2 separate regions of the Homo sapiens genome follow, and region 2 is linked to region 1. A link means that fine-mapping ties the variant in region 1 to the expression of a gene that starts in the linked region. Tissue or cell type: Th17 cells. Region 1 holds a variant in brackets; the other region holds the start of a gene. All regions are shown on one strand. Distances are from middle to middle.

The links. PIP is the estimated chance that this variant, and not a neighbour inherited with it, causes the effect.
Region 2: FREM3 starts here. The variant in region 1 is fine-mapped to the expression of FREM3 in Th17 cells (Schmiedel 2018, PIP 0.95).

What each region holds. Positions count from the first base shown.
Region 1 is chr4:143,499,645-143,508,021 of GRCh38, forward strand. No RefSeq gene overlaps it. Among named protein-coding and RNA genes, the nearest start is that of SMARCA5, 9.9 kb to the right of the region's middle. The variant A/AGT (reference allele first, on the strand shown) is at 3,490.
Region 2 is chr4:143,696,836-143,705,014 of GRCh38, forward strand. It overlaps FREM3 (FRAS1 related extracellular matrix 3), which reads right to left and starts at 3,840. Exons shown (of 8, transcript NM_001168235.2): 1 at 1-3,840. The coding sequence starts at 3,840. RefSeq lists an enhancer at 3,207-3,864.

The DNA.
Region 1 (8,377 bases):
TCAACCTCCCAAAAAGCTGGTACTAAAGGTGCACGCCACCATGCCCAGTTAATTTTTAATTTTTGTTGTTGTTGTTGTAGAGATGGGGATCTCCCTATGTTGCGCAGGCTAGTCTAGAACTCCTGGACTCAAGGGATCCACTCTCCTCGGCCTGTCAAAGTCCTGGGATTACAGGCTTGAGCCACCACACCCAACCTCTTCAGGCCATTTTAATAGTCATTTCACAAAGAGCTTCACATTTCCCAGGGTGCAATCAGGTTCCTGGGTCCCCTCTTCACTCTGCATTGGAACAGAGTTGATAAGCCCTTGTGAATGTGCTTGGTTTTCAGCAATTTCTCTTCTGAGCCTGTATTTTTACCCTTCTCATTCTGGTGCTTGAATTTTTCTCTCACCAAAACCTGGAAACACAGCTTTTACTTCATATTCTTTCTAATTATGTGGCATGAAGCTGGGCAAGGAACCCTACAGCATGCTTGGAGCTCCAATCCATAGTACGGAGGCACAAGCTTGCTCCAGAGCCTCATTCCTCTTTCAGGTTTCTGGTAGCAGAGCTCCAATCTGTAATAATACCTTGTTAATGAACTGAAAAATGGTTTTTCCTCTCTTTAATACTGGTCATTTAACACCTTTCCATCGTTTACTGAAGAAGAGGAAGGGACAGTCTCAAAATTCCACCTACCCTCTACTCAATCTTCCCCATCTCTAAGTCCACAGAAGCCACAGACACAGGACAAGCTCACAAGCTAATATAAGCCATTATACTATTTTTTTTCCTCCAAGACTTAAAAAATTGGTGATTTCCAGCCATGTGCTTAGCTTCTCCTACTTAGCTCAGTAAAGTAATCTTTACTTAAAATTATATATGAAATAGAAAATTATTTAATATTTTCATATAGTGTTAATACAATTTGATTTCAGTATATACAAAAACAGCGGGTCACTTTTGGAATTGATGAACCTTTTAATTATGATACATTACATATATTTTAAACAAACATTTGCCATTATGACAGGTGACATAGACACATTTATCTATAAAGCATTAATTTTAAAAAGAAAATTGTTGGATGCTTGAGAAGTAGGAATTTTATGTGTCAATGATGTCCTTTTGTTTTCCATTAAAGGGAACCTGCTGTATGTATAAAAACATTTTTGAGTCTCTGTTTCTAAATAGTGTTTTCTCAGTTAGTTTTGAAAATCACAGTCTCAAAGGCTAGCATTATTCAAAGGATAAAAATTAAACTTGGTATTATTGAATGTAGTTTAGTGATATGCAGTAGGGGCTCAAAATAGCAGTGGCTTACACAGATAGAAGTTCTTTCTTATCTGAGTGAAGCATGAAGAATTGCACTCATCCTTCACTCACATGGTGATATGGTTTGGCTCTGTGTCCCCACCCAAATCTCATATTGACTTGTAATCCCCATAATCCACATGTGTCAAGGGAGGAACCCGGTAGGAGGTGACTGGATCTTGGGGTTAGCTTTCCCATGCTGTTCTCATGATAGTGAGTGAGTTCTCACAAGATCTGATAGTTTTATAAGGGGCTCTTCCCTCTTCACTACTCACACTTCTCTCTCCTGCCACCATGTGAAGAAGGTCCTTGCTTCCTCTTCACCTTCCACTATGATTGTAAGTTTCCTGTGGCCTCCCCAGCCATGTGGAACTGTGAGTCAATTAAACTGCTTTCCTTTATAAATTACCCAGTCTCAGATATTTCTTTATAGCAGTGTGAGAACAGACTAATATACATGGCCACCCCTGGCAGCACGAGGATGAGAAATGAAGACTTTATTCAGGATGGCCAGATGCGCAGTTAACTGAGAGAGTACTGGAGAATGGTTGTTGAAGCTTTCAGTTGGTCATAATCACACATTGTAAAACACTTTCTCAGGTAAAATTTAATATAGGAACTAGCAGAGGCACTAACCTTTTGAGTTTTCATGGAACTAGGCTTCTTCACTGTTGTATTTACATACACTACATATACATACACACATATATAGTATGTATACATATGTGTGTATATACATTGTATATATATTGTACATATATACATATGTACAAATGGTACAGCATATACACATATATGTGTATATATAATTTATATATTTAATTGTTTAATACTTTTTATTAAACATTTTTATTAAATGTTTTATTAAAAATTAAACATTAATATGTTAAATTTTATTGGCATTTAAGATAACCTAAATAGCATTTTATTGATATTACTATTAAATAGACGCAAACTATTGTCAGCAGAATTATTAAGATAAGTTGGGTGATTTTCCCCTTGAGGGACTGAATATACAAACTGACTCTATACGACAACAGAATTGTCACACACAATGTCTGTAGCAACTAGTTGGAGAAACTATCTTAGTCCCTTTGGGCTGCTATAACAAAATACCATCAACTGTGTAGACTGAAAAAAAGAAAACTAGAAATTTATTTATCATAGTGTTGATGACTGGGAAAACCAAGATCCAGGTGCTGGCAGATTTAGTGCCTGGTGACGGCCTGCTTCCTGGTTCACAAATGGAGCCTTCTCACTGTGTCCTCACATGGTAGAAAAGACAAACGAGCTCCCTTGGGCCTATTTTATCAGAAAACTAATCCCATTCTGTGGAGGTGTTATGACCTAATCACCTCCCAAATGGCCCTACCTCCTAAAACCATTAACTTGAGAGTTAGAATTTCAATATATGAATTTGGAGGAGACACAGACATTCAAACCACAGCAGGAGCTATACCACAACCTCTGCAGCAACAGCTCAGTATGGTCACAACTCGGTCAATGACTGCTTACTTCCCTATTTTTTGCATCAGGACAACTTTCAATTCAGGATCAACCAGAGAAAGCCAAATATACTTCCCAAACCAGTCATCCTAGATGTCTTATTTTTATTTAGCCTGCCTCCAGTTCCTCTATGTGAATGAGCTCTACTCAGAGCACAATACTATAAAGCTTTTCCAGTTCCCACTCTACCACTGTCCTACTTTGCCAAGAGCAAGTGACGATAGCTAAGTCCCTCAATATAACAAGTTCTGAATAAATAGCACCTGTTTGTTCTTGTTTGGGTGACCTTCATTTATTTCCACGATCTCAATAAGCTACCATCCTTGAGCTACAGGTTTCATCTTTTACTTTTATGCAATTTAGTCTAATTAATCTGCCATATCACACATTGACTGTATAATACTATGTAAGCCACTCTATCTTCTATGTCTGTTTCTCTGCAAAATGGAGACAAATATTACCCCCTTCACAAGGGCTAATGTGAGGGCCAATGAGTCAAAACATAAAAAACTTGAAACACTACATGCAACTAATAAACTTTAGTTATGATTATCATTATCATCACTATCATCATCAAAATACAAATCTTCTTTCATCTAAATTGTATCTGAGTACCTGGGATCTCTGTGAGTCCAAAATCAGGGTTCAATGATAAATATATGTTTTATTTTTCACCCTGAAGATTGTAT[A/AGT]GTGTGTGTGTGTGTGTGTGTGTGTGTAAAATTAGCTGAAATTTGTTAAATTTAAAAGATGATGAATTTGTTGAAAGTATACTTCTTTGTCTTTCTATAATATGTGTATATATTCTTGTGGTGACCATGAAGCTATGACACTCAGATCTACTATGGCAGCCCCAGCTGTAGCCCCTCTGGATCCACCTCCCCATCCCTCCATCCTCTCATCCCTACTCCCCACTTACTCCATATTTGTGCTTAGGGCCAACTTTTCTCAGGCTACTCCCAGCAGGCAGTGGTACTAGTGCAGGAACACTCTCATGGAATATACTACTCATCTAATGAGCAACTTTGGCTTAAAGATGCCCCATCAGCCCAGCCAAAACTTTCTCAGAGCTCTGCTACAAACTGAAATTCTTCTTTCATAATCCTCCATCCTTCCCTTGTCTTTACAAATGTTAGTTCTGCCTCTCTGTCTCAAGTCACTCCCTCCTTACTCATGCTTCCTCCCTTTATTTTTATTCATGTATTTTTTTTTTTTTTTTTGAGATGGAGTCTCGCTCTATTGCCCAGGCTGGAGTGCAGTGGTGCGATCTTGGCTCATTACAAGCTCTGCCTCCTGGGTTCATGCCATTCTCCTGCCTCAGCCTCCCGAGTAGCTGGGACTACAGTCACCCGCCACCACGCCTGGCTAATTTTTTGTATTTTTAGTAGAGATGGGGTTTCACTGTGTTAGCCAGGATGGTCTCGATCTCCTGACCTTGTGATCCACCCACCTCGGCCTCCCAAAGTTCTGGGATTTCAGGCATAAGCCACTATGCCTGGCCCCTTTATTCTTCACAGTTAGTCCCTCCAGTAAATATCTCGCATGCTTGACCCTGTCTTGGTGTCTGTTTCTGTGGGGACACAAACACAATATGTAAATAAAACACAAAATAGCTAAATTATATTATTGCAATCTCTACCATAGGTTCTGGTTTAGAATCAAAGTGCATAAGATATACTCGTTATATAAAGGTAATTGCAGGTCCATAAGTAACTTCATTGTGAGTTCAATTATAAATCTAGAATTAAAATTCAGTTTACTTCCAGATATCATGATTCACCAATTCTTATTACTGAAAGAACTGTAATAAAAGAAAATTCAGTGATAAGGAATTTAGGTTTGAAATGTTCAGCAAGCTGTGACAAAAATGACAAGCAAGAGCAAGCTGCAAAGCTTACAGTCTTACACAGTTCTTACTGTCAAGGTCTCTGTTCTGTAATTCCTGATTCTCTTACAAAATAATAAGTGGAAAATTCCATTGACTTAACATTCTTCTCTTTTGTGTCTGAAAGCGAGACTTACAAAATCTCCACTTCTTTCCACTAATGAAGACCCTGAAGTGGCCTATATTGATAGGGCAAAACCAAAAGTGCACTCTTTTTCAGAACACAACTCAGTGGGCCTTCTGACCAGTGACAGAGTTACAGGGCTTCCTCCTTACATGCGTTCTGGAGCACTTACCATTCAGAGAAGATTAAGTTCAACACCAGGTACTTTGAGATGAATCAGAAACTAAAAAAAGTTTCTTTGAATTTATAAGATACTAAGTCCATACCATCTTTCATAATGAGTTATTATAGAATAATAATTATATACCTACAAGTGTTAAGAATCAAATTTTCAAAAGGCCAAAATTAATCTCCAGCTCTCAAAAAAACATACTTCAAATACATTTTAACTGAATAACTCAATTTCAAGTGCAACTGGGCTTAGAATTGGCAACTTGGATAAAAATTGAACCATGAATGAAAATTAAAAGGATCATAATGCTTGAATGGGAACATTAATAGATTTTTCTATCAAAGATAGTTTACTTTTCTGCAACATAAATAGACCATAAACATATGCTAGAGATTCCAGTCAATTCTTTGCACTAATTTACTCTTCTTTCTAAGAGAGCCTCCATTCTCGGTTGCTGCTCAAGAGGTGGCCTAGGTAGCCATGTTTATATCTAGTGGCCTGATCCCTATTCATACCTAACGAATCTGGGATTGGCACCTGACCTAAACTGAACTGATCTGTCTCTGGACCTTGAGATTTGTAATTGAAACACTGGTTGTTATCTATGAGGTACTATAATGCACAGCCAGTTGGAGTTGGAACAGACTAAACACAATGCACTTACTTAGAAGCAGAGAAACCAAGAGAAAGCAAAGAAAGCTATTCTGGAGAGATGCAGAATGACAAAAATATATGCTGCAGTGGTTACCAGCTTGCATATGGGTTGAATTTCAGTTCTTTTACTTAGTGTAAAATAAAGACAAATTAACTAGTAGGTTACTTACAAGTCCAAATGAGAATTATTTACAATAAAACTAAAACAATAGCACATAGGGGAAAACATGGGCTTAAATAGAAAATCATGAACTGTCTTGACTCCAGAAGACAGACTTTTGGGTTTTCTGACTCTATGTGAGCTATTTTACAACTCTGTAAATTGTAAATAACTTATACAAGTGCAAAATAATTCTCGTCTGTACATACGCAAGTGTTGTCCTATGCATTAGAAGGTAAACTGACTTCCTTCCCCTAGTGTGGAAGAAGATAATTTTACCTCCACTTCCACATTAATTTCAACTTTTCTTTACCCAATATAAATTTGTTTTTCCATTTTTAATCTTTAAACTGTTGTTAACACCTCACTAACTTCCGTATTAGTGAGTTAAATAAAATCTTTAACAAGTGTTCTTTTTTATGTATGTATGAGAATCATGCTTTTACTTTTTTAAAAAATTTCTTTTAACAGTTTTGGGAGTTTTCCACAAACATGTCCACTGGATTCACTTAACAAGACCAGGTGTATTAGTCTGTTTTCACACTGCTATAAAGAAATACCGGAGACTGGGTAATTTATAAAGGAAAGGTTTAATTGACTCACAGTTCTGAATGGCTGGAGAGGCCTCATGAAACTTACAATCATGGTGGAACAGGAAAAGGCACATCTTACATGGCAGCAGGTGAGAGAGAGAGGAGCGAAGGGGAAAGAGCCCCTTATAAAAACCATCAGGTCTTGTGAGAACTCACTTGCTATCACAAGAACAGCATGGGGGAACTGCCCCCATGTGCCAGTCACCTCCCACCAGGTCTCTCCCTAGACATGAAGGGATTATGGGGATTACAATTCAAGAGCAGATTTGGGTGGGGATACAGCCAAACCATATCACCAGGTAAACTGTCACCAGAGAAGTGCATCTCATGGGTAGTTTAAGCCCAGCATGTCTTGGCTTCCAGAAGTAAATCCAAAGCAGCAATATAAATTTGCTGATGATGTTTTTCTATTTTTAGTTTTCTTCTCTACTAATTTTATGGGTTTTTTTTGTTCTTTTGCAGCTGATAAGTTATTTCCCATTAGTGGCAGCAATAACTGGCAATTTGATTTTTATGATCTGACCATTTGATTTCTGTAGAAGAATTTGTGGCTAATAAAGATCTATTCTCTGCTGAGTGAGAGACAACAAAGTGTTGGATTTGTTAGTCTTTTGGTTTGTCAATTTATCTATTTAGGGCTTAAATCAATTAAGAATTTCCTGTCTATCAGGAAGAACAGCTCTTTAGTATCTGAACTGGAAAGTTATTTTGATATTGTATTTACTCTTGACCAATGGCTGAAATTTTAGAATTAAAACTCTAAGTGCTATCTATCTCTGTCTATATACGTGTCTATAATTCAGAAAAAATTTTACTTTCCTTTTGTGAGTGCGTAATGTTTTCCATCTCAGGATGTAATCAATAAGTTCAATTACAAACTCTTAAAGGGGCCTGTTCTGATTGACTAATAAAGATACTTACATGGATTGAGTATTCCAAAAATTCCCAGAAAATAATAAACTTCTAATAATTTAAACGTGCTAAAATCTAAAAGAAAAGTATTCTTACTGAAACTAACAAGTAGAGAAGCCATGTTCACAAAGTGTAGGTGAATCTTTGGCAAACAAGACTAATTTAATATTTTTGTTTTAATAAAATCATCTATGTCTTATCTAATTTATCAATATTAAGTATAATAAAATCCTATAATAATTTTAGTTGGGAATGTTTTTCCTAAATTTATACTGATTTATTGATCAAATAAACTAGCATTACTTCCACTTTATGGTTAAAGATTATGAAAAATATAAATTTGTATTTGGCCAAATTGGTTCATTATTCTGATTTTCAACAAAAGTTTTATGTCAGTTTGAAGAGAATTTCAGTGATCTCTATTTTTCCTTTTCAGCACTGTGTTGAATATGAATGTTATAAGCAGAAAACCTTCCCTGTTTCAGATCTTAGAGGGAGAGGATTCAATCTCACTAAGTATAATGTTTGCTGTAGGTATTTTGCTGATGCTCTGTATTAAGAGGAGGAAGTTCCACTCTATTTGTTTTCTCTTTTTTTTTTTTTTTCTGAGAGTTTTGTTCTAAATGGGTGTTGGAATTTTGTCAAATGCTTTTTCCTCATCAGTCAATATAATCATGTGAGTTTTCTTCTCTAGCCTGTTGATATGGCAGACAACATTGACTAATACTCAAATATTGAATCAGTGTTGAATATCTGGAATAAATCACATTTGATCAGGGTGCATAATTCTTTTTACACATTGTTTAATTGTATCTGATAATATTTTGTTAAGGATTTGTCTGTATTCATCAGTGATACTGGTCTGTCATTTTCTTTCTTATGTAGTGTCTGTCTGATTTGGTATTAGAGATAAAGCACCTTCATAAAATGAATTACAAAGTGTATCATCCTCTTCTATTATCTGCAGGAGATAGTATGGAATTGGTATTAATTCATCTTTAAATATTTGGTAGAATTTTTCATTGAAACCATCTGTGCCTGAAGATTTCTTCTTTGGGAGTTTTTAATTTATCAATTTAA
Region 2 (8,179 bases), 200 kb after region 1:
AAAACTGTCCTCTTTTGTCTCTGAGTCATCATGCTCATACACAATGGTGGAGGCCTCCTGGATCTCCTTGAGGGTGAAGCTGTGGATGGGCTGGCTGCCTGTAGCCAGCTGCTGTATGATTCGTCCATGCCGAGGGAGGGCTGTGAGTTGAAAGTGGAGCTCATTTGGTGGCAGGTCAGCATCTGCTCCATTAAGCAGCTGGGTGTCTATGACCAGGCTCATCCCCTCTAGTACCTTAAACTCATGGGCAAAAAGTTTAGGCTGCTCATCATTGGTGGGTAGGATGATTATAGGGAAGAAGACATTTGGGGAGAAGTTGATGCCATCAGAGCAATAAAAGGTGAATTGGTCCTCTTGTGGCTCTACTCCCTTGTGAATACTCTGTACATAATTGATATGCCTCACTTGGATATCTCTGAGGGAGAAAGCACTGATAGGGCTACCAGACTGGGACATTTTTGAACCAGGAGCTGATGCAATCTTTTCCAGGTAGCCAGAGGCTGGCTGACTAGTCACTGTGCAGAGGAGTTCATCTTGATGAGTGTCCACATCTTCAACATGGAGATGTTGTAAGGTCAAGGAGTTCTTCTCACCTTCATAGACAATGAAGGACTCCCCGACGAAGACCTTGGGTCCCACATTGTCCACAGGCAGCACAGTTACTTGTACCTGTACTTTCTCTATTATGCTATTCCCCACTACCCATTGGTAAGAATCTTTGGAGAGGATGAGGCTGAAGGCATCGTGCTGCTTTTGAAAACCAACTTCACCTGCAGTGTGGGCATAGGCTACTCTCCCATTGATGAGATCCTCTTGGGTGAATCGTTCTGTGGGCAAACCATTTACCAGAATAGTGCCCAGTTTGGGGCTGTCCTTTACAATGAAAGACAGCATCAAGTCACCTACATCCTTCCTTTTGCCATGGATGACACCCATGGTAATTTCAGTGGCTTTATTCTCTAGTACGTCTATAGAAACATCCAATAATGAACTACTTCTGAGAGAGATCCTAGGACTTCTGTTAGCCACATTGGGATGCACAGAAATTGGGATGGTGATGGGTATATGGTGCACCCCATCACTTACTTCCAGATGGAAAGTGTCACTGGTAGTCGTCTGGTCTCTGCCATGCTGGTAAGAGACACTCCCGTTAATAACATCAGCTTGCATGAAAGATTCCCCTGGGACCATACATCTTTTAAAGTACTGCAAGTGTCCATGTTGGGGACCCCGGACTAATATGAAGACAATTTGGTCAATGTCTGTGTCTGGGTCTGTAACATGCAGCTCATTACTGCTGAGGTTAAAGCTGCCTCCCTCTAAGATAGCAAAGCCTCTGTTGGTGACTTCTGGGGGCTGGTTGTCCACAGGTTGCAGGAATAATGTGAATGTGCCTGGCACGCTATTGCCTGCAGCATCTTCCACCTGGTAAGTAAACTGCACAACCCGTGGTGCAATACCCAATTTCTGTGGAGGCTGGTAGGCAACTTTATGCTGATTTACCTGGGCTTGGGTAAAGTGCATGATGAGTGTGTCTGGTGAATCAGTGAGCACAATTTCTCCAGCCCGGACTTGGTGGTTGCCATCTGTGTCAGTCGGGAGTGTCAGTAGGGTGTACCATAGGTTCTGGTCATCAGAGTCCTGGTCAATGTATCGGAGGAAATTCTTCTGGAAGTGAGTGAGTTGGTATTCTTGTACAGTCATTTCTAGTGTAGTTCCTGGATACAGCTGTGGACTCAGTATATCCACTGGTTGGACCTTGATGGTGAAAATGTGCTGTTTGGAGAGATTGGGTGGGTCATGGTCATCCTGCACATGGAAAGCCAGCTGGACCATTACAGATTGAGGGCTGTGTGGTCCAAGATGGCGGTAGAAGAGTCTCCCTTCCATTATGTCTCTCTGTAGCCACTCAGTCACCACTTTCTCATAAAGCCCTTCCTTTTCCATGTAGTGCCAGTCTTCATCTTCAGTTGAGAGAGGTAGTTCAGCCTGCTGCAGCAACAGGTCCCCCAGGTAGTGGCCTGAGTGGGAGGAACCAGGGGCCAACTCCCACTGAGGCTCTTCCTCATTTCCTTTTAGGGGCTGGTTCTCCAGCACAAAGTGGATGGTTGAGTCCTCAGAGTCAATATCAGTAGCACTCAGTACAAAGGGAGAGATCTGGACCACCTGCCCTTCAGTGAGTGAGAGTCCTGTGTTAGTATTGACCATTGGTGGTTCATCATCCACAGGTAGGATGGTGAGGGGAAAGAGGAAGTCCACTTGGTGGTGCCCGTCCTCCATCCGGAAGATGATATTGTCACTGTAGGTGTTGCTGCCATCATGCTGATACACCACTCGCCCTGCTGCCAGGTCCGCTGGTGTGAAATACTTGCACCCAGCAGGTGCCCCAAACACCACCAGCTGCCCATGTCTCAAGCCCCTGACTGCAGCCATTTTCACCTCTTCCAGGTTATCTTTATCACTGATAGGAATGCTGTGGGTGCTGGACAAGGGCCTTGACTGACCTTCAAAAAGCACAAGTCCCCTGTTATGGCTAGCCACTGGGACCAGAGTATTCATGGATTTCACTGTCACCATGAAGGCAAAGGGGTCTGAGGCGGCGCCGTCTCCGTCCACCACCTCCAGCTCCAGCTGAAAGAGGCGCTCCCCATGGGAGTTCTCTGCAGGGGGCTGATAGGCAATCTTCAGCTCCCTCAGCTCCTGCTGGGTGAAGAAGGAGACTGGAAGCCCTAGAGGGTCGTCGGTGCTGACCACGTAGCCCTGTTGCCCCGGGTGCCCTGGTGGGTGAGTGGGGGCGTTCAGAATGTTGAACACCAGGTCACCAGGGTCTGACTCGACGTCCTCCGCGGCCAGTGCGTCAGGCGTCAGGGCTGTCAGCACCAGTGGATCCACCTCCATCATCATCGTGGCCATGAAGCTGGGCCTGGGCGGTGTGTTCTCGGCTCCGCCGCGGATCCTCACGAGCAGCTGGAAGTGCTCGCGGACCAGCACACCCGCGGACCCAGCGTCTTGGCCCTCAGGCCCCAGCAGCTCCACCATCATGGGCACGTAGTCACGGTTGGGCGAGGAGGTGGCTGTGTGCTGATAGCGCACCCCAGCACGGAGGAAAGCCTCACAGTCTACGCCCTTGCCCCTGGGGAGAGGGGCCCCCACCGCGTCCACCAAGCGCCCGTACTTGGGCAGGGGGCCGTCCTCGTGAGGAAGTGGGGTAAGCCGGCACCTGCGGGTGGCCGTGGCTCCAGACTTCAGGGAGGCGAAGTCCAGCACTCTCCTGTCTATGGCGCGGCTCCAGCTTCGCAGCTTCTCCACTACCAAAGGCCTGTTACGCGTCACCAGCTCCAGCTGGGAGAAGACCAAGTCCACCGCCAGCGTGAAGGGCAGCACCAGAGTGTGAGTCGGGGCGTCGTAGCGCAGCTGCAGCAGCACCCGGGCGCGTCCGGGGCTGTGGGAGCCGAAGTGAGTGTACTGGACTTGGCGGGGCCCGAAGGTGCAGGGGAAGCGGCGCGGGGAGAGCGCGCCCTTGAGCCGCGGCAGGGCGTCCAGTACCGTGACTTCGCACCGGTCCCCCGGCTGCACTCCAATCACCAGATCCCGGAGCGGGTCGAGCCAAAGGGAACGACCCAGGGGCACCCGGAGTCCAGGGTTGGCAATCAGCACGCTGGGGCCGTCGGGGCGAGTGCCGTCAAGCGCACCCCGGGCGGGCAGGTAAAGCGCCGGGTCGGGCTCGGTCCCAAGTGAGGATGCCCGTCCCTGCAGCGCGGGGCGACTCAAGAGCAGGCAGGCGAGCGCCACAAGGAGCTGCCGGGGCGTCCCAGTCGGGTGCCGAGAAGCCCCCGCCATGGCCACGGATGGCTCCTGGCGTTGGGATTCCCGGGGTGGGGTGCCCTGTGCAAAGAGGGATCTGCTGAGCGGCAGGTGCAGGCAGTGGAAGCAGTAGCTGCTGTCCAGTCGGTAGCCGACTTGCGGATCCAGCAAGAGCCAGCGGCTGCGCTTCGGCTGCTGCAGGTAACGGCAGCGGGGGAAGGGGCTCTGCCCACTTCCTGCTCAGCCCCGGTCGCAAGTCTCTCTCTGCTGGCTTCTGGGGACCCCAGATACGCGCCCAGCGCGGCGAGACTTAGCGAGGGTGCAGCGCTGTCCCCTCCGCTCCTGGGCGCTTCACCCAGCCTACCTTACACACCTTCTCGCCGGGAGCCGTGGCCGCCGCACTGCTGCCCGCGCTGCCAGACTCCGACCAGCTGTCTGGATACTCTCTTCCCCAGGTGCCACAAAGGGATTGTCCCTCAGGGTTGGGAGAGAGACGGTGACTGTACTCGGGTCAGTCCTGCGTCTGTGAGATTGAGCTCCTGTTGTCCATTCATCCAGGGATTGGTGTTTCTGAAAAGGGGGAGAGACACCATTCCTCTTCCTTACCGCTGACAGGAGTGTATCTTCTAGCCAAAAACTGAGTCTCACTTCGGACATAAAAGAAGCTGGTGGGAGCTATTTTGCAAATAGGATTTTCTAGCTGTCTGTCTGATGAAGCAGCTTATTCAGGATCTTGTAATTCGGTGCTTCCAAACAACCCTGACGTTTTTCTTCTGCTCAGGTTTTGAAAAAGAAAATCAGCACCCAAACTTACTTGAACAGCTTGTAATCTGGGTTTTTTTTTTTTTTTTTTTTTTTGTCATTGGGTCTCACATAACAAAATCAGGTGTGCGGCTCGGCTTCCTTTCGTTTTCTTAGAATGTGGTTTCCATATCTGATCAACAATGACTTGCCTGTTAGTTTATTAGACATGCTGTTTTCTAATTACTTTCTTCGTAGACAGTAGCCAGAGGGGAGGATGTCAAAGGAAACAGTAGCAGAATACTTGGATCAATTTCTGTGGCTCAATCATTTAACACCTGGAATCAGTCTCTTCATGGCTTTCAGATGAAGGTGACTATGGATGTAGTGTTAGGTACTTAACAGAATCCTATTAATTTTTTAAGTTTTAAAATAGCCAATTTAGTTACAGTGCAGAGTAATCTTTTTCTATAAATAAAGTAGTAGTAATAGTAACGTGCTTCCTTATAAAATTAATGTGAATGTGAGAGACTTTTTGATGACAGTAAAAATAGATGTCTACAAACTATATTGATAGAAATGGCTTCAAGGGGGAATAGAAATCTTTAAATGTTATCCCCATGTTATTCTTTTAGTTTTTTACCGTGTTACAAATGCCTGTTTTATTCACAGCAGCAACGGCATCAGCTGATTTTCAGGGCAAGAATAATCTGCTAGTGACTTGAAAGATTTAATTTTCTCTCTAAACATTTAATTTAATCATCCAGTGAAATGCTATGGGTCTATACAATTCACTTTAGTTGAATGTTAGTGTGCCCCATTAGCACACAGATTTGTTCATATAACAGAATTTTGAGATAATAAGTTTGAATCAATATGTGTTTAGCCTAATGATACAGTATTAGTTCAGTGTATCTGGAAAAATATTATTTAAAAATATATTTCTAATTGAAACACAGGTAAAGTTTCATTGTAAATGAGTCATTATATTATATTTTATAAAGCTGCTGCCTTGTCCAAAGGATGGGTTTTTAATGGTAGAACTTTTATTAGTTTGCATATATTAAAGTTACCAAATGAATATTCCTATAGGAGTGCAGTTTTGGTTCTTTTTCAAGCACACTCACTCACTTTGGGACAAGTACCTTTTTTTCTATGCTATTTTCACTGGAAGTAGAGATGGATGTGGGCAGCTGAGATAACAGAAAGCTGAACTACTATGTTTATATTTTTGTCCTCTGACCCTCCCTCTTCAGCATATATTCCCTTCACCTCTTTTTCACCATTAAATGTCTTAAAAGAGTTTTTTATTTCATTACTGTCTCCATTTCTTCACCTCTCACTCATTGTCTCTTTAGGGCACTCCCAGTCTGGTTTCCACCTTAGACACACCAAAAAAACTTTCACTAAGGTCATTAGTAACTTCCATCTGGCAAACTCCTATAACTATCTCTCATATTGTTAATGTTGCCACACCTTTCTGGTTTCTTTTCTACCTCCCAGTCTAAGTCTCATTTCTTCAGGAAGCATTTTTCAAATGCTCTTCAAACCATGTTGCAAAATCTCTGTAGTTATCTATTCATGTACAGGTCGATTAGTGTCTGTCTTCCCTGTTTGGCTTTAAGCTACAGGAGAGCAGGGAGTATGTAATGTTCACCATTGATACTTAGTGCTTATGCCAAGGACTGGCACATAGCAGGTATGTAATAAGTATTTGTTGATTGATTGATTGATTGAATGAATGAATAAATAGAAAAATGAAAGGGAATCAGAAGTAGTGATCGACATACTTTGCAGTTTAGGTGTCAGGCAGGAGAAACCAGTGCAAGCGTAGGATGACTTCTTTCGTCTTTCCTCAGAATATGCCAGTTCATTAGAGGTCAGTGGAAGCTCTGTTTAGAAAATTCAAATTTGATTTCTAGCCAAATATTTATATTACCCAAATTTTCTTTTCACAGGGTAATTTCACTATCCATATTGTACTTCATTCTCTCATTAATCCAAATTTATTCTTTAAACCTGAGCTGCATCAAGTCTGTCATTAAGTGGGAAGGATGCCCAAGGTTTTCATAAGCCCTACATTATGGGATCATTGTGAAAAACCCCTGAAAGCTGGTTATGTGTCATATTTCTAATTTATATATAGTAACAGATCCCACTTCATACAGCTATCATAAGAATTAAACAGATTACTACACATAAAATGCTTTGAATAGTGCCTGGCACACAGTAAGCACTCAATAAATGTAAGTAATTATTATAATTATAGATAAGAAACTGAGACTTACAGGAGTTAAGTAGAAAAATTTTACCTTGCGAGTTAATTCCACTATAACTAAAAGTATGTCCTGTAGGGAAGGACTTCTTAATACCCCCATCACTTCAGGACAACTTTCCGTCATGCTACACTTCATAAATAACTGGCTCTGCCCTGAGGTACATAGAATAAATGGCATTAAATAGGTCATAGAAGGGAGACTATGTGTCCAAATATCCTGAGTGTGCTTTGGCAGAGAGAGAGTCCATTTTTAGAAAAGTCACATCCAGCTTTCAGAAGTTACTGGGAACAAGCAGGAAAAGTTCTCACCTCATGAACCAGGAAGCGCTAGAACAGCAGTCCGCATTCCCCCAAACTAATGGAGCCAAGACCAGCTATCTAACCTTTTCTTTGTGGAAGTTATTTTTTCTCTACCAGCTGGAGAAACAAAAGATCTTAAACCCCACATGTCACACCATGAATGCCTTGAATCAGGTTGCCTGCAAATGTTTAGCATTGATGTACTTCAGTAAAGCCTAGAGGCTTTGCTCTAATTGGGTCACCAGTGGGCTCTTAGAAGAACATGCTCCAGGGAGACTACAAGTAAAACAAAACAAAACAAAACATGGAAAACAAAACATTAAAATGGCATCCAAACCATTTGTAACCTGTGGGGACTGCAGCTTCAAGAGAAGTTAACTAAACTAAGTCACACAGCCTGTCAGTGGCCAAGCCACCTTTGCTTCCATTACATATGGACTCCGTGGGGCGCCTGCATTTTCTGTGAGTCTCTCCCAACCTGAAGAATGCAGTAGCTGCAGCTCCACCTCAATAACTACATCTCAGGGCCATGTCTTTCTTTGCATAAATCTGGGCTAGGTTCTCCATGCCCTCCGGGATGGGCACCATTATTCTCTGTGCCTCTACACATGATAGGATGTTGGTAAAGGCAGGCTCCATACAGTGGAGCAAGGAGAAGATCATCATACCCAATGGGAATAACCAGTTAGCATATGTCAACAAGTGATGCTGCATTCATTAACTTTTAAAACATTCCCAACAAACTACTAGTCATCCTATTTCGCTTGCCTTCAGAAAGGTGGTTGAAAGTCAAGGTACAGGCTGGGCACGGTGGCTCATGCCTGTAATCCCAGCACTTTGAGAGGCTGAGGCAGGTGGATCACGAGGTCAGGAGATCGAGACCATCCTGGCTAAAATGGTGAAACCCCGTCTCTACTAAAAATACAAAAATTAGCCGGGCGTGGTGGCGGGCGCCTGTAGTCCCAGCTACTTGGGAGGCTGAGGCAGGAGAATGGCGTGAACCCCGGAGGCGGAGCTTGCAGTGAGCCGAGATTGTGCCACTGCACTCCAGCCTGG